Linked DNA regions of Homo sapiens: region 2 is linked to region 1. Evidence: fine-mapped expression QTL. Tissue or cell type: whole blood. Region 1 holds a variant in brackets; the other region holds the start of a gene. All regions are shown on one strand. Distances are from middle to middle.

Region 1 (9,831 bases):
ATTAGCCGGGCATGGTGGTGGGCCTGCAATCCCAGCTACTAGGGAGGCTAAGGCATGAGAATCGCTTGAACTCTGAAGGCGGAGGTTGCAGTGAGCCGAGATTGCGCTACTGCACTCCAGCTTGGGTGACAGAGCAAGACTCCATCCCCCCAATCCCCCCACCAAAAAAATACAGCTTCCAGCTGGGCACAGCGGCTTATACCTGTAATCCAAGCATTTTGGGAGGCTGAGGCAGGAGGATCACTTGAACCCAGGAGTTCGAGACTAGCCTGGGCAGCATAGTGAGACCCCACCTCTATTTTAAAAATGTAAACATTAACCAAATGTGGTAATGTGTGCCTGTAGTCCCAGCTACTTGGGAGGCTGAGGCAGGAGGATCGCTTAAGGCTGCAGTGAACTATGATCGTGCCACTGCACTCCAGCCTGGGCGACAGAGTAAGACCCTGTCTCAAAACAAAAAATAAAAAAACAGCTTCCCAGGCCCTGACCTGGGAGATTCTGACCGAGTAGGTCTGGAATAGGAGAAGTAGGAATTTATTTAGGGGGCTGTTATGTCTTTCTAATCTGTCCTTTTAAACTTGCATATAGTCACATCCCTCCACTAAACCCTTTTTTTCCCCAACACTCCCTTTATTGAAATCTCATCAGCTCCTCCCCAAAAACCTCACGATATAGACAGGGTAGGGACGATTAGCCCCTCGACAACTTTTCACAAATATACACACGTTTAACTACTTCTCAGGTCATGATAAAGACCGGCCGGGCAGAAACACTGTAATCCCAGCTACTCGGGAGCCTGAGGCATGAGAATCACTTGAACCTGGGAGGTGGAGGTTGCCATGAGCCGAGATCACGCCATTGCACTACAGCCTTGGCGACAAGAGTGAAACTCCATCTGAAAAAAAACAAAACAAAACATTTCCATTGCCCCAGGAAGTTCCTTCATGCACCGCCTAGTCAATCCTCCTCCCAAGGTAACCACTTGGGAATAAGACTTTTTCCATAAGCACCTCAAGTGATTTTTGTGGCTCGGGGCATTTGGGAAATCGCAAAAGACCTTCCCAGCCTGGACAGTCTGGGGCTGCGTGCTCTAGACCGGGGGCTCCCTAAGGGCAAATACCTGACCCTGTGAGTCCTGCCAGGTACAAGCTGGGGCATACCAGCTGATGCTCCCTGGAGGCACATCAGTTTATTAGGCTGCTTGGTAGAGCCTTGGAGGGTGTCCTTGGAGCAGGCCTGGGAGCTGGGTGGGCTTGGATGGGGAAGGCCCCCGGCTGAGCTGAGGTGGAGAGAGCTTGGCACAGGGGTGTCCCTGGGTAGGTCCCACATGGAGGCCTGTGCAGGGCCTGGCCCAGTACCTGCCATCGATGTGACCTCTTCACCATGGCCAAGTGGACCTCCATTTTCTCACCTGTAAAGGGGGACAGCTCTGTCTCACTCTCAGGGTTGTTAATGAGGACACAGCAGGTCAGGTGTGTCACAGTCAGCACCTGGTGCACCGTAGTTCTTGAATGGGAAACCAATGTTAGACGCCAAAGGAAACAGTTTCGGAGGTGCAGGGACTGACCCAGCAACACACACCTGGGAAGTGGTGGAGCTTGGGCTTGGATCAGATTTGCTGGCTGTGTGACAGCTCACCCAGTGACTTCATTGCTAGGCCTTGGTTTCAAAATGTGGTGACTGAGAGTGGTGCTAAGGCCCTAAGTTTGGGTCACACTCTCACCTAAGTGAGAACCTGACCAAAAAGGGGGAATTTTAAAACAAAATTATGAGCTGGGCGTGGTAGCTCACACCTGTAATCCTAGCACTTTGGGAGGCCGAGGCATGTGGATTGCCTGAGCTCAGGAGTTCAAGAATAGCCTGGGCAACATGGTGAAACCCCGTCTCTACTAAAAAATACAAAAAAATCAGCTGGGCATGGTGGCATGCGCCTGTAGTCCCAGCTACTCAGGAGGCTGAGGCACGAGAATTGCTTGAACCTGGAAGGCGGAGGTTGCAGTGAGCTAAGACCGTGCCACTGCATGCCAGCCTGGGCGACAAAGTGAAACTGTCTCAAAACAAAAACAAAATTATGAGAGGCTGTTGTTTTGGACTAAATGCATACACTAGGCCCCAAGAGACCAGACGAAACCTAAATAGAGTCACTTGTGCTAAATGTGATATCATCAAACTAAAACTTTAAAAAGAACACATAAATGCTAAAACCAGGTTTTGTTTTGTTTTTTTTTCTTGTAAACAGGACATTCCAACATTAAAAAAAATACCCTCTAACCCTTAAAAAAAATAACCTAAAGTCTTTATTCCCACCTTACAAAACCCACTGTCCTACTGTTTCCCAGTGGGTTTCGAGACCAAATAAGTACATTTACAATGGTGATAGTGACATCAGTGACTCGTTTTGGTCAATGTCTCAAAATTTAAAAAATAACTAAAAGAAGGGAATTATTAAATCAAATCTAGCCTAATGCTGCCTTCTTACATATTTTAAGTTCAGCCTAGCAGTTTCTCTACATTGTAAACTATAAGAAATAGAGGTGTAAACAGACTATAGCCTACACTTGTGCCAATCACCAAGTTTTGGGGGTTTTTTTGTTTTTGTTTTTGTTTTTGTTTTTTTTTAAGACAGAGTCTCACTCTGTCGCCCAGGCTGGAGTACAGCATTGTAATCTCAGCTCACTACAACCTCCGCCACCCGGGTTCAAGCGATTCTCCTGCCTCAGCCACCCAAGTAGCTAGGATTACAGGCGCCTGCCACCATGCCCAGCTAATTTTTGTATTTTTAGTAGAGACAGGGTTTCATCATGTTGGCCAGGCCGGTCTCGAACTCCTGACCTCAGGTGATCCACCCTCCTCAGCCTCCCAAAGTGCTGGGATTACAGGAGTGAGCCACCATGCCCAGCCACCAATTACCAAGTTTTAGCCAATCAAATGTCGCCAACTGTTCAAACCGTGTTCAAATGACAAGTGCTAAGCTGTAACCAATCTGACTGCACCTCACTTTCCTTTTCTGTTCATAAATCTTCTTCTACTAAGTGGCTGCGCTGGTTCCTACTCCGGCTCAGGAGGCTGCCTAATTTGCAGATCGTTCATTGCTCAATTAAACTCTTTTAAATTTATTTTTTTATATTTTATTTTATTTTATTTTGAGACAGAGTCTCGCTCTGTTGCCAGGCTGGAGTACAGTGGCACGATCTCAGCTCACTGCAACCTCTAACTCTCTAGTTCAAGCGATTATCCTGCCTCAGCCTCCCGAGTAGCTGGGATTATAGGCACACACCACCATGCCCAGCTAATTTTTGTATTTTTAGTAGACACGGGGTTTCATCATGTTGGCCAGGATGGTCTCGATTTCCTGACCTCGTGATCCACCCACCTCAGCCTCCCAAAGTGCTGGGATTGCAGGCAATTCTTTTAAATTTAATTCAGCTGAAGTTTTTCTTTTATCAATAGGGCTAATAATCCCCACCCTGCCAGTATCACTAGGATGTTGTGAGGATCTGACGCAATTTGAGTTACGGGAATGTTGAGAAAGAAAAGGGCGTAATGGAGTAACGAGATTAGTTTTCCTGTTATGGTGAGGTCAGTGGCCTTTCTGGGGTCAAGAAGAGGGGACTTTCCTTGGCACCAAGAGGGTAAAAGTGTCTCCTCCTGACCTTGGGTATTTTGGACCATGGGATCTGAGGTGTACCAGGAGACAGGAAGTGTGATCAGAAAAGGCCTGGTCTAATGGTGCACAGCTGTGCATATCCAAGTGGCTTGACCTCTCTGGGCCGTTTCTGAATCTGTGAGATGGGAATCATAACCACTCTCCTGACTTCACAGGATGTTTTAGGAGAGATTGGATCTGGGTTGGGGAGACAATTTTGGAAGCAGAAAAGGCCCCTCCGTGCTGGCAACAGCTCGTCCACCTCCAGCCTGTGTGTGCTGCCTCCTGGGTGACTGCTGGCTTTAGGCCAGCGCCTGGCAGGGCTTCACTAAAGCCTCCGTAGGCTGCTGCTATCTCAGTTCTGAGGTACGGGCCGTGGAGACCCCCAGATTTGGGCTTAAATCCCAACTCCACCATTGCACCTCTGAGCCT[C/T]TGTTTCTCTGCAAATGGGGATACTAGTCCCTAGCCCAGATGGGGCCTGGTACACAGTTGGTGCTCAATAAGAGCAGTTCGTCTTCTTCTGAGCATGGGTGCATCCCTCTGGCTGGGGTAAGCACCAACTCAGATTTCTAGGCCCATAGATGGGCTGGAACAGCTGCTGCTGTTAGGGGAAAACCTACTGTGTTACTAGCCAAGGGGTTCCCTTCCATGTTTTTGCCCCACAGGGCACCTGGCACAATGTCTAGCATACAGTAGGTGCTTTGTCCACACTGGCTGGTCAGTTACCTCCAAGCTGACAGAAACTCTGTCCCGTTCCCGACTGTTTCCATAGAACCTAGCACAGAGATACTCAGCAGGTGCTCTGTAGGTGTTTGGGAGTGAGGAATGAATGAACAAAGTTGAATGAACAAGCATCGGGCCCTCCCCCGGGGCTCAAATGGGAGAGAGGAGCTTCGTAGCCTGCTCCCCCTCCCACCCCAGCACCCCGTTTCATCCCTTCTGACTAATCCACAAAGATTAACCCAGGGATAAAGCGGGTCACGGCCACTGACCCAGGGCTTTGGAGCTAGTGTGACCGAGTGTGTGCAGGGCGTGGTGGCTGCTCCCAGGGGCCCTCTTTGCCCCAAGATGGCCCTCCTGTCCCCCATCCTGGATGTGGTCCTCACGGTGGCCCTCAGCCTCCTCCTCCTGGGGCTGATCCTGGGCCTCCTTTGTTTCTTCACTTGCCGCCTGGCCAGGCCGCTCAGGTAGGGGAACTCAGCTGGCCTGACTCCCCCTGCATCCCGCCAAATTCCCTGCCCTAAGCTCGTTCAGCTTCCATTTGTTCTCGTGAGATGGAGCAAGCGGGGCACTCATTTCTCTTACTCTTCATGGTGGGGAAACCAAGGCCCGGAGAGGTTGAGCCCTGGCGTCAGCCTGGGCTTAAATGGCGCATAGTCGAAGACTAGCCAAACCCTCTGTTGGGTTTCCTAAGCTACAAAACGGGGGCTCTTCATCCATATTGTGAGATCAGGGATGTAAACAGCATGGGGCTGAGTGGAACATGAGGGCCTAAGAAATGGTAGTGACACGTTTGTCCCATTCTTCTATCATTTGCCCCAGATCTTCTGAGACCCAGCCCAAGGCTGGCTTTTTGCCCCACTCCAGGATGCTCCCGGGCCCTCTGCCTGGGTTGCTGAATCAGTCCTCAGAGCTAAGGCCTGCCTGGCTCCTCAGCCCCCTGCACTGAACTGCCAAGTAGCTGCTCCTCTGGCGCCACAGCCTAGCCGGGGCTTCTGCACTGGCCATGCGTAATCAGGCTACGGAGGAGCCGGGAGCCTGGCAGAGAAGGGAGGGAGGGGGTGGCGATGGGGCTGACACACACCCGGAGGCCCCATTTTAAGCTGGCAGACATTGGCAGAGGGTGGTGGGCAGCCGGGGCCCCCACAGCCCCAAACTGGGCCCCTCCGCTTCCAGGGCTGCCACAGAGCAGCCAGGAGCCTCTGCGAGGGGGAGGGGTCCTAGGGGTGGGGCCAGCAGGGAGGCTCTGGGTTCTGAAGGCTTTCCCAGGTCCCCACCCTCTCCTTGTCCTGAGCGGAGGCTATGGGAGAAGGCACCTGCCTCCAGGCCAAGCCTATCTCAATGCCTATCCCTGGGGCCAAAATTCAGAGCATCCCAGCCTGAACTGGTGGCACTTATGGAACTGCTACCATGTGCAAGGGCTCGGGATGCAGAGATGGGTAAGATGTTGGTCTTTACGTTCACAGAGCTTCAGGCTAGCAGGGAGGAGAGACAGACCAATAACCGGAAGAATAATCATGTGGGGCTGGATGAGCCTTTCAGTGCTCCCGGGTCACTACACTTTTATTTTTCTTTATTCGCTCACCTGTTTTGGACCCTCAGTGCAGAGAGAGTGGGATACGTTATCTCACTTAGCACATGACATACCCAAATAAGCTCTCAGTTCTTGTTTTGTTTATTCATTTTTTCCTTTGTCCCTGCTCCCTGCCTCCCCACTGCCATTCCCACAGCTCACCGAAGTCCCTATGCTAATGTACTTAATATGGCCTTGGAGTTGTAAGTGTCCTTGTACGTTACACAGCATTCTGTCCGTGGGGGTGGTTTGCACTTACATACACTGCGTTTGATTCTTTACATTCATCACTCAGTCCTCTGCCTTTAGACCCCACCACGCTGCTGTTTGGACATCTAGTTTTAATACCACTGCCACGCAGACATTGCCTCCACCACTCCTTACTAATTCATTTCCCTAGTTGTGGACGAGACTGCCCCGGCTCCTCACCATCATAAGCCAGTGTTAAAAGGAGTTTGCCAAAGCTTTCTCCAGCGAGTATGATGGTTTCTGCAGGTTCTTGGCATAAAGCCTTTATCAGATTAAGGAAATTCTTTTCAATACCTGGTTTGCTGAGGGCTTCTGTCACATCGTTTTCTGTGACCCCATTCCCTCTCCCTAGGTGAGCACGTCAAGTTTGATCAGGGTGTTAACTGCCACCCCTGTGCCTATGATTCCCAAATTTATACTCTAACCCAGACTTCTTTTTCAAATGCCAGAGCCAAATATTCAGCTGCCTCCTTAGTGTCTCCACTTCTAAAAGACATCTCCAACTCAACATATCCAAAAACAAGTTCCTGATTGTCTCCACCTCACGCCTCAAAAGACCACCCCAAACGCCGAAAGGCTGAATGCTTTTTTCTTTTTCTTTTTTTTTTTTTTCTGAGATGGAGTCTCACTCTGTTGCCCAGGCTGGACTGCAGTGATGCGATCTCAGCTCACTGCAAACTCTGCTTCCTGGGTTCAAGTGATTCTCCTGCCTCAGCCTCTCAGGTAGCTGGGACTACAGGTGCACACCACCATGCCCAGCTAATTTTTGTAGAGAGAGTTTCACCATGTTGGCCAGGCTGGTCTCAAACACCTGACCTTAAGGGATCCACCCGCCTCAGCCTCTCAAAGTGCTGGGATTACAGGTGTGAGCCATCGCACTTGGCTCGGTAGTATATGGCTCAGAAACATTGCCATTTACAATAGTTCCCCAAAAAGCAAAATTCTTAGGTATAAATCTGGATTCAGAGTCCAGAATGCTAACCATTACACGATGGAACCCGTAGGTATAAATCTAAGAAAACATATCCAAGATCTACAGGCTGAAGACTACAGAGTGCTGATAAAACCGAAGAACTCTGACTGAATGAGTGGAGAGACGTGGTGTCTTCATGACTGGGCAACTCCATGTGGTATAGACGTAAACCCTCCCACATTGATCTGTGGATTTAATACCATACCTATCAAAAACACAGTGGTGGAGGACAGATCAGGGATCGCCAGGTTTAGGGATGGGGGGATTGTGTAACTATAAAGAACGCAAGAGAGATTTTTGGGGTGGCAGAGCTGTTCTGGGTCCTGACGGTGGCGGTGGTGGTTACATAAATCTATCCATGTGTCAAACGTCAGAACACTCATTTTACACTTGGGGGCAACAGAAATCCCTCCCTCTGGAGGGGGTGACTGATGGTAACCTGATTGCTAATTCTGGAATCAGGAGCCCTGTGGTCAGGTTTCTGCTCTGCAACTTCCTGTTGGTAACCTTGGGCAAGTCTCCGTCCAGAGCCTTGGTTTTCTCATCTGTAAAAGGAGATGATAGGTCCTTTTCTGTCCACTGCATAGCTGATTAGTGAAACATCATGGTGAAATTCTTTATGAACTATGGAGTGCAGCACATAGACTTGCTTTCATTTTGTCAGTATCCTTTATAGATTGTTCATGTAAGCTCCCAAAGAGTAGTATTTATTTTATTGAAATAAAATGCACGTAGAGAAAAATGTGTGTATCATACATTGACAGCTGAACCCACCGTGTAACCAGCACCCACCCACCCAGATCAATCATAAACCGAACCGCACCAGCACCCCAGCAGCCCGTTCCCGTTTCCGTACCCTCCACGTGGAGCCTCCGTTCTGTCTCCCAACGCCCTGGGTTAGTTTTTATACTTTCTGTCATCGGAATCACACTGTAAGTGCTCTTGGGTTTAGCTTCCTTTGCTCAAGCTTACCTTGTGCGATTCATTCATGTTGTTGTGAGGAGCTGTGGATCATCCATTCTCCTTGCTGTCTGTGGTGGTTTCTGTGTTGTGAACACACACAATGTATTATCCAGCCTGCCGTAGATGGAGGCAGTTTTGAAGCCATTATAAACAGGGCTGATGTGCACATTCTGCTGGAGAGAAACGGGTCCCAGGGTACAGGTAGGATGATCAGCTTCGGTAGATCCTGCCGGTTTTCCCATGCGCTGTGCCTGTCTGCACTCCACCAACGGCGAGCGGACCTTCCGGTAGTTAAACATCTTCACGAACTCTTGGACTTTCCTGCACACACAGAGAAGATAATTTTGGATGGCTCTTCCCTTCCCCCCACAACCTTCCTTAGGGCACTGGCTTTCAACTGATGTAAATATTTACTATGCCAAGCACTAGGAGGGCAGAGACAAACAAGACAAAGTCCTCACACTTAGAAACTCCCGGTGTGGCAGCTGAGATGGCCCAGGAAAGAACTATATTACCTTCAAAAAGAGAGGTACATGCGATGTTTGAGGTGGCATGAAGCTCAGTGGTGTTATATTGGAATGAGTGAGTGACCATCCTGGAGCCTTCCTGAAAGAGGTGACTTCATTTTTAAGTGATTTTAAATAATAGTTTAATGAATTAGTATTTCGTATTCAGTTAATAACATTTTTCTGATTTTAGGATTTGCTATAGAAATATTTGGAAACCGTAAAGTAGAACAAAAAAAAAAATGTAGGAATCATCTGAAATTCCAAATTCTACCACTCACAGTTAAGTGTTGTTAGATGTTAGATGTGGGATATTGCCTTTTAATTTCCACTCTGCGCCGCTACCCCCAGCCCCTACCCCAGAGCCGTCACTTCTGGCACTGGAGCGCAGCTTGCGTGGTTTTTTTTTTTTTTTTTTTTTTTTTTGAGACAGAGTCTCGCTGTCGCCCAGGCTGGAGTGCAGTGGCGCGATCTCGGCTCACTGCAAGCTCCGCCTCCCGGGTTCACGCCATTCTCCTGCCTCAGCCTCCTGAGTAGCTGGGACTACAGGCGCCCGCTACCTCTCCCGGCTAATTTTTTGTATTTTTAGTAGAGACGGGGTTTCACTGTGTTAGCCAGGATGGTCTCGATCTCCTGACTTCGTGATCCGCCCGCCTCGGCCTCCCAAAGTGCTGGGATTACAGGCGTGAGCCACCGCGCCCGGCCATTTGCGTGTTTTTAAGGTTGAATCAAGATCCTTCTTCTGGTGGTAGTGGTTTCTTTTTCTCCCTTCCCTTCCCTTCCCTTTCCTCCCCTTCCCTTTCCTCCCTCCCCTCCCCTCCCCTCCCTCCTTCCTTTTCTCCTTTTCTTTTTCTCTATTTTTAAATTAAAAAAAAAAATCTTGGATGGGCGCGGCAGCTCACACCTGTAATCCCAGCACTTTGGGAGGCCAAGGTGGGCAGATCACCTGAGGTCGGGAGTTCGAGACCAGCCTGACCAACATGGACCCCATCTCTACTAAAAATACAAAATTGGCCGGGCATGGTGGCGCAAGCCTGTAATCCCAGCCACTCGGGAGGCTGAGGCAGGAAAATTGCTTGAACCCGGGGGGCGGAGGTTGCAGTGAGCCGAGGTTGTGCCATTGCACTCCAGCCTGGGCAACAAGAACAAAACTCCGTCTCAAAAAAAAAAAAAAGAAAAAGAAAAAATCTTTTTCCTTTGA
Region 2 (9,041 bases), 38 kb before region 1:
TGAATAAGGTTGCCAAGTCTGCCTGGGATAACAGCCTGCTCACTGGAAAGGTGACGATGACAACAGTGATGGTGCTTTGGTGTTGCAGGGAGGAGCAAGTTAAATCTCACCTATAAAGATCTTTCCATCAGGCTGCAGACACAGAGGGAGTCCCCAGCAACAATAGCTCATATATGCTTCAGTTTCCTCATCCGTGAAGAGAGAATAAAAGTCCCTACTTTTATTAGCGTCCAATTGCCCTGGCCACGGCAGCATTGTCGGTTTAATGATGCTGCTTCGGCTGTCGTAGTCTCTTCCACCTCATGCCTTTTGGTTCATTTTTTAACTGAGTTAAAGGTGGGGCTGTAGGTGGCACTGGGAATCAAATGGCTGAACTTGTGCTCAGGCCTGGGCTTGAGATAAAATGACCCCTTTAGTCCAAGCATCAAAACAGACCAAGGTTTCAGGCCCCCTTGCCTTTAAATAGATTTCAGGGATTATTTTCTCCAGCCCTAGACCACAGCTGACTCCTCACCGCCTCTCCACGAACAGACCTCAGAGTTTTGTTTTCTCTGTCTCTCTCCTTTCTTTCTCCTTTATCTCTGTCTACTGAGGTCCTGGCTGTCCCCCTGCCCCACCCTACCCTATGCTCTTGGGCTTCTGGCCTCATCTCTAACTTAGCTTCTAATTTTTTCTCTTCTTTTCCTTTCTTTTTTTGAAACAGAGTCTCACTCTGTCACCCAGGCTGGAGTGTAGTGGCGTGATCTCAGCTCACTGCAACCTCTGCCTCCAGGGTTCAAGCGTTTCTCGTGCCTCAGCCTCCCAAGTAGCTGGGACTACAGGTGTGCGTCACCTTGCTCGGCTAATTTTTATGTTTTCAGTAGAGACGGGGTTTCACCGTGTTGGCCAGGCTGGTCTCAAACTCCGGACCTCAGGTGATCCACCTGCCTAGCCTCCCAAAGTGCTGGGATTACAGGCATGAGCCACCACGCCCGGCCTAACTTAGCTTCTAATTCTAATGCCTGGTGAACCTCTTAAATTTTTTTTTCCCAAGACAAAGTCTCACTCTGTTGGCCAGGCTGGAGTGCAGGGGTGTGATCATAGCTCACTGCAGACTCTAACTCCTGGACACAAGAGACCCTCCCATCTTGGCCTCCCAAAGTGCTGGGATTACAGGCGTGAGCCACCATGCCTGGCCTGCCTAGTGAACTTGAAGGTCTAGCTTGCGGCACAGGCTCATGGCATGCACTTAACAGATACGGAATAAATGGATGAATGGAAAAAGCCCTGGACTGGGAATAGTAAACCTGGTAACCAAACCCAGCTCTGACCCTGACCTGTAAGTAACTACTATCTCTGGCCTTGGTGTACCCCATGTATAGTGGGGATTGTAAACACCTGCCCTGCCCACCTTATGATACTGCTGTGAGACTCAAAAGACATCATTAGCTCTTAGGCACAGGGAGCTTGGAGGTTAAATCCAATTTGTTTAGTTTTCAACAAGGAAGTGGTGCCCCAGGGACAATGATGGAGAGAAATCGAATGTAATGAGCTGTTGCCACCAGCTGAGTGGTCCTGAAATCATGGCATCTGGGTTGCACTTAGAGATTGTCCAGTTCAAAAGGCCAGAAGGAATCTGAACCTCGATGGGAAAAGTGACTTGCTCAGCTCCCCAGCAAGCCAGGGCAGAGCTGGAGGATGGACTGGAGTCTCCTGGTTCCAGGTCCAGGACTTCTTTCCGCTGTGTTGACAGAGCCAGGAGGAGGGGCACCCGGGGAGCAGGGGAGGCAAGGGCTGCTGGATGCCCCATCTCAGTTGAATTCTCCTTGAGGGACCCAGCCCAGGAGCAGAGTAAGAGGGTTTGAGGGTGGAAGGTGGCAGGGCTGGCCAAGCAGTATAGTCCCTGCTGCTGATAACCAATCCCTGAAATCCCGAGGTGGAGGGACTTGAGGGCAAATCACAGACATGGGGGACCTAATGCTGGCCATGTGGCTCAACCAGAAGTGCCCGTCCCTCATAGCTTTGGGGAGATCAGAAGTCAGGGATAGGGTCGGGTGTGGTGGCTCATGCCTGTAATCCCATCACTTTGGGATAAGGAGGCAGGGGGATCACTTGAGCTTAGGAGTTCGAGACCAGCCTGAGCAACATAGCAAAACCCTGTTCTTTACAAAAAAATACAAAAATTAGCCGGGCGTGGTGGTGCACACCTGTAGTCCTGGCTGCTGGGGAGGCTGAGGTGGGAAGATCACTTGAGCCCGGGAGGTCGAGGCTGCAGTGAGCTGACATCATGCTACTGCATTCCAGCCTAGGCAATAGAGTGGGACCCTGTCTCAAAAAAAAAAAAAAAAAAAAGTCAGGGGTGCTGGCCCCATGATAGGTGCAATGGGTGCCTCCAATTCCCTCTGGCTCTGCCTCCCAGCCTCTGTCCAAGCAACAGGCAGATTTTCCATGCCTGGGGACTTGCCCCTGGCTCACTGATGATGATACCATCTTAAGTCTCCTGGAATCCTTAAACCCTTCCTTGGCATTTGTGAGCAAGTATTGAGCCCCTCCCATGTTTTAGGCCCAGTGCTGGGTGCTTTCACCTGCAATTTCTTACAGAGGATGGTATTTCCTAAACTCCATTCATTTGCTACCTCCATGATTTTTGCCATATCACCCAACCCATGAAATACATAAATAAATAGTATTTACTCAATATTTTGACTCACTTTTAAAAAACATAAACTTATCTGAAAAGGGAACCTATGTCACGCCTCTAAATAAACAGTATCAACCAAAAATACAAAAGAAACAAAAATAAATACAAAGACATTCTTGGTTTCTGGCACCAGGCCCCAGTTCTGGCTCCAACCTTACTGAGAAGTCACATGATCTCTCTGGGCCTCAGTTTTCTCCTCTGGAAAATGGAGCTTTTGGAAGTTAATGCATGCACAGTGCCTGGCCCTGAGACTGGCATGGAGTGAGTGGAAGAGAGGTTGCCTGACCTGGCTAAAATTGGTTCTCTGGGCAGACATTTTCCCAAGGGCCACTGAGAAGACCCTCCTGTTAGGAGTCAGTGAGCTCTGTCGCTGGAGGCATTCAAACAGAGCCTGCGGACTTCTCACTGCGAAGTTGCCCAGAGAATTCAGTGCTCAGAGGAAAGGGAGTGGTTATTCCATCAGAGCTGGTTCCCCAGGAGCGGGAGCAGGGCCTGTAGCACCCAGCCTCTGTCCCTGGCTCCCGTCTATCCGGGATTTTAGCGTTTCCTCTGTAGTTTTCAAGCACTGTCTCATATGACTCTCGCACCAGCGAGAGGCCAGGGGAGATGGTGTCTGCCTGTTAAAGAGGGGCAGGCTGGTCCACATAGGTCAAGTGACTTGGCCAAGGTCACCAGAGCAGAGTTTTGAACTTGAGCTGTCTGACTCAACTGCCTGGGAAGTGCCTGCCCCTCCTCTGGCATCCAGGGAGCATGTCCTGGGGCTCTGGCTGGGACATAGCCGGACACCTGCGGGCCCTTTACGTCTCTAAAGAGAGAAAGAGGGAAGGGCCCCTGTCTAGGGGGTGGTTTCCCTCCAGATGCCACCCCTCCGAGGTCCCCTTCTGCTTCTTCTTGCGGTAGCCAGGGAGGCAGCCCACGGGCAGGGAAGCGGGGGTGGGGGTGCAGAGTCAGAGGTGCACGTGGACAGAGACAGAGAGACAGGGACACGTGGGCAGAGACGGATAAAGACAGAGACCCAGAGAAAGCCAGATATGTTGACAGACACAGAGACAGACGCCAGAGAGGAAGGCAGACAAAGAGACGGGTGGAGACAAAGACTCCCACCAAGAGACGCAGAAGGAAGATGCCGACGGTAAAGACAAAACAGGAGACGCGCGCAAGGAGCAGGTCAGAGCCCAGGCTCGCTGAGAGAGGAAGGGCTGGGCTGGGGCAGCCCGGAGGCAGAGAGACCGAGAGTGCGGGGCGGGCGAGGGACGCCAGGGCCGCGTCACCCCAGCCCGTTCCTAGCTCCGCTCCCGGCAGGGGGCGCCCTGGCCTCGTGGCACGACCGGCCCGCGGGGCGCGGGGCTCGGGCCGGGGGCGGGGCCGGGGCCGGGCTGGGGAGGGGTTGGGGCCGGGGGCGGGGGAGGGGGCGGGCTGCCCGGGCCTCACTCGGGCCCCGCGGCCGCCTTTATAAGGCGGCGGGGGTGGTGGCCCGGGCCGCGTTGCGCTCCCGCCACTCCGCGCCCGCTATCCTGGCTCCGTGCTCCCACGCGCTTGTGCCTGGACGGACCCTCGCCAGTGCTCTGCGCAGGTAAGGATTCGACGCTGCCCCGCGCCCTGGTTCCCCAGGGCCCCAGCGGACGTGGTCCATCCCCTTCTGCATCCTCCGCTGGCCCCGTGGTTGAACTTTAATGGCAGGGCCGGGGTCTCCAGCGCCACGCCGCCCACAGCAGCCCATTCGGGACGCCCTGCAATTGGTCCTGCCCCTGTCCTCCCGCGCATCCCAAGCTCCCGGCGCGCGCTCTGGGCGGGACAGGAGATTGGACGTGGCGCCCGCGGAGCCGGCGAACTCAGGGGACCGCGCTCGGGACCGCCCTGCAGTCCCAGGGTCTCCTACCTCCCGAGCCGCTGCCTGGGACCCTGCGCTCTGTCTGGGCACCTGCCCTTGGTGCCCCGTGACTGAGCCCCTCCTGGTGCCTCCTTAGCCGTAGCTCTAGAGACCTGGGCTGCCAACCCCAAGGCCTCGTGGCCTGGCGCCCTCCCAGGCGTCCCACCTGACCCGGTGGGGTCTAAAGCAGTTTGGTTTGGGAGGAGGAGAGGGCAGGAGGCGCTTGGAATGGGGGGCGTGGCGGGAGGAGACAGAGGACACCCGCGTGGGTGTCAAAGTGTGGGCACCCACTGTGGGCACCGCAGCTGTGGGGCAAAGCTCTGGAGCCCGCGAAGCCGAAGGAGCCTGCCGCCCCCTTTAGGCTTTGCGAGGTGGGCCTCCCAGGGCTGCTTCCCTGCCCAGTCTTGGTAAGAAAGGGTTAAACGCAGGTCTCAGCAGAAAGGCAGGAGGCCGAGGAAAGCCTCCCCCACTCCCCATTGTGCCTTATGACTCTTTTTCAACACATAATGGGGTCGAAGGCGGGGCCTTTACAAAGGCCTCTGGGTGGAGGGTGAAATTCCTTGAGATCAAAAGAGGGGGCGATTCTTGGGCCAGGAAGGGCTTTGGGCCCTGGGAAAAAGTCAGACCGCTCAGGTGGGCCCAGCTGCCCAGGGAGGCAGGGGTTGGGTCCCAGCCTCAGTGTAGATACTGCAACTGTTTTTTGAAGGCCTACCGTGCGTAGAGGGACCTGCTCTGACATCTCATGTACATCATTTCATTTTACAAATGGGGAAACTGAGGCTTAGACAATTTAAGTAAGTGGTGGGACCAGGGTTTGAATCCAGACTCCAAACTCTGCAGCCCTAGCGTCCTGCTCCCACTGTGTTGCCTAAGAGATAGGGGGCTGAGCCTTGGTTTTGTCTTCCGGCTCCTCCTGGGCTCAGCCCGCTCTTCCTCCACTCTCCAGTCTTGCTCTTTCCAACTGTTTAGTCCTCCCCACCTGTGGGTGTCCCCACGCTGTCCTGCCCCAGCCATCCCACTCCCTGGCCCCATGCATCTTGTTCCTGTGTCACCTTTTTCTTTCTTTAACTGAATACCTGTGAATTCCCTCAGAAGAGGCCCCTGGACACAGCTTCTCAACATCCCAACTGGTGAAGACTAGGCTGAGTGATGATCCCGGTCCATGTGCCCATTTGTAAAAAGGGGTGTATTCCCCTTTCGGGACTATTGTGAGGAATAAAACTGAACTGAGGCCAGAACAAGATGCTATCTTCATTCAGCAAATACTTAAGCATCCGCCGTGTGCCAAGCTCTGTTCTAGGTGCCGGGAATGCCACAGTAAATCAGCCAAAAGCCCTCTTCTGGATTGGATGTTTGCATAACAAAATTCTTTCAGGCTTTGAAACTGTCAGAATTCACAGTGTAGACTTGAAATCAAGCTATTCATAAGGAAGGAGATTAAGACGCAATCACCTGTAAAATGGATTGGCCAACCTTTGGCCCTCACTTTAGCAAAGGCAGCCTTGCTGTGGGACCTGGGATCAGTTCTGTTCCCTCTCTGTGCCTCGGCCTCCTCCCATAAGCTGTGGAGATCAATAGTGCCTACCAGTGGTGAGGTCTAGATATGATGAATGCTTGCGAAGGGTTTAAGCTGGTACCTGTGCTTAAGAAAATCCTGGCTATCCTCAGCTCTCTTCTCAGCAGAAAATGCAATGCGGAGACTGGAAGTTGGGTTATGTGCCTACCCTGCCTCTGAACCTGTTACCCACTTCTGCCCAGGCCCTTCCCATCCTGTTGGGCTACACATGTGGGGTGGCATGGTGCCCTCTTTGCTCACACTCAGATGCCACCTTCTGTCGCCATCCTAAACACAGCCTGGGCTGGGAGCGCAGAGCTCCATGATGAGATCAGCCCTGGAGCCATCATCTCTGCAGCGCTTCCTGCCCTCTGCCTGTTCTTGTGCCTCACCGTGTCCTAGCTCAGGACCAAACTCAGCCCTGTTCTGTCCCATGACTTACATACCCAACATTCCCTGCAAGCTGGATATGATCTTGGAAAGGGGAAGTGAGTTGCCCAGAGGCACACAGATGCTACCTGAGGAGCTGGGGCTGGAGCCTGCGTATCTAGAATTCCAAATCTAGCAATCTCCATGCTGTACCCATCTCTGGGCATATGAGGCCTTTTAATCCAGGGAGTAGGATCCAGTAGCAGAGCCCGAGTTCTCACCTTGAAATCAGTCTGACTTGGCTTTTTAATACAAAACCCAGAGCTCTGAGAGAACATTGCTGGGAGAGTGAGCAAGCTGGGCTGAGAACCAGCACTCAGAAATCTCCATGTGGCCACAGGAATGCTGACTTGGCTTCCCAGCACCATGTCGTCGTCCTTGGCAGGCTGGAGCTGGGCTTTGTGGTATGTTAGATTTGTTTTTTTTCTTCTGGAGATGTCCTCACTTTCAGAGGGCAGTTAGGGGCAGTAGACTGAAGGTTCATTCCCAGCACTGCCATGCGACCCTGGACAAGTCACCTTCCCTTTCGAAGCCTCAGTTTTCTCATCTGCAATATGGGTTAAAATTATATACTTTGCAGGGTCGCAAGATCATAAATGGTTTTCCAACTTTGGGCTGAACCAGCATTGATGTTATTAAGACATTCATATTTCCTGTGGAGCAATTTCAAAAGCAGTTAACTTTATCCCTACCAGGTGATCCTGAGGGCCTGAGGGAAGTCCACGTTTAGGTCACAAAAGCCTACACAGCAGGGAAAACACTGGTTTGGGGGCTGGTGTCTTGGATTCCAATCGCCAGCTGTGTGACCTGAGGCAAGTCACTTTACCTCTCTGAGTGTCAAGCTCATAGGAGGCCCCCAACATCAAGATATGATGCTCAGTGTCTGAAGAACATAGTCTCCGTATTTTTCTGCCTCCTTGTACCAGCTCCCAACCCCCCCGCCAACACTTCGTTAATTGCTCCCAGAAAAACTCTATGCTTAAAGTTTTCCATGCTTAAATTCTCAGCCTCACTGTGGCATGAAATCAATTGTTTGCATTGAATTTGACTTCTCAAATTAAGGGGTAAAATTTGAGATGAGAGTAGGGGGTTAGGGAGGAGATGAGGACGAAGTTAAACCAGATGTGCTTTTGTTTAATTGTAGGATGGTGGTTAAGCTGCTCAAGTATTACCATCGTTCTTTCTGAATTCCAGTAACCAGGAGTCAGGTTTCACAAAAAGTCGTAGTGTTCTTTCCTGGCTGGTGTGGACTCGCCCTCTCTATTATTATTATTATTATTATTATTACTATTTTGTATTCATCTGAGGCCACAGAGTACTGGCCAGAGAGGAGACATAGATCCCCAGAATTTCAGTTGGAAGGCCTTTAGAAGCTGGCTCGGTCAACTGGGCTCTTGGTGCACCAGGGAGACTGAGGCCCAGAGAGGAGAAGAGGCTTGCCCAGGGTCACACAATTGCTTAGGGCAGAGTGGACTGGGAATTCAGTCTCCTGGCCTTAAGCTACATGATCTTTCCAAAGGCAACCACTCTCCTGAATTTGGTGTGTTTCATTTCTACAGTATATTCTTAGCATATCTGTTTTTTGAAAATCATTGTTTAAGGGAGGATGCAGATGATGTGGGTTGGTGGAAAAAGATATTAAGCTCAGGAGAGCTGAGCTGAAGTCCTTGAATACCTCTGTGACCTTGGGCAAGTCACTTCCCCTGTCTGAGTCTCAGATTCTTCATCTGTAAACCAATATATCTGAGGAGTAGGAGTGGAGAGATGAGACTTCCCTAAGACTTGGAATGGGTCTAATGTATTCAACTGGTCCTCAGATATTTATAGCCTGCTGTGTGCTGGGTTATGGGAGATCCATCACAAACTGCCTTCCTAAGGCTGCAGGGGGTGGGGGATTGTTGACTTTTGCGGTGATTAAACAACTTTTATTTAGTTGCTGGTGTTTTTAAACCAGGCAATTTCATTTTATATAAAGATAAGGATTTCTGGCTTCTCTTGAAAGATCAGAAGATGTGGCCATATGGGGCTATGTCCCTGCCTGGCCACAGTGGCTGGAGCTGATTAGCAGCTGCTCCATCCACTTTACCACAGTCTCCACCACGCCCCACTGCCTCACACTTGCCCACCTGCCTCCCTGACATTACCTACCTACCTTCTGAGCTTGCGGTTTCTGGGCTAGATGCAGTGAGGCCATGTAAGAGGGGCTCAAATTCCACTTGAATGATTGTGTGGGGCTTGGGCCAGCCCTCAGGGGGCTCAGGGTGAGAATATGGGACACGTGGACACTAGCCCCTCTTCCATAGCCTGGCAACATCTACAAAACATGTCAGCTAGGCGAAGGAGCTTTTTTCCTGCTTCGGTGGTCCTCAGGAAGAGTCTGAGGGCTCTGGAGGTTTGGGGGTGATAGAGCATCTACCTGTCAAGGCTCAGCGAGTTGAGCCCAGGGTCTAGCTGGGGACAGGCATCGCTGGGTACTTCATTCTAAAGATTGCACAGCCCCTGCAGGG

The links. PIP is the estimated chance that this variant, and not a neighbour inherited with it, causes the effect.
Region 2: it holds the start of ALPL, and the variant in region 1 is fine-mapped to the expression of ALPL in whole blood (INTERVAL, PIP 0.96).

Annotation. Positions count from the first base shown.
Region 1 is chr1:21,542,690-21,552,520 of GRCh38, forward strand. The region is part of intron 1 of ALPL (alkaline phosphatase, biomineralization associated); the gene reads left to right. Among named protein-coding and RNA genes, the nearest start is that of ALPL, 38 kb to the left of the region's middle. The variant C/T (reference allele first, on the strand shown) is at 4,079.
Region 2 is chr1:21,505,265-21,514,305 of GRCh38, forward strand. ALPL (alkaline phosphatase, biomineralization associated) reads left to right here and starts at 4,159. Exons shown (of 12, transcript NM_000478.6): 1 at 4,159-4,253. RefSeq lists a silencer at 3,967-4,066 and enhancers at 4,102-4,672, 4,673-5,242.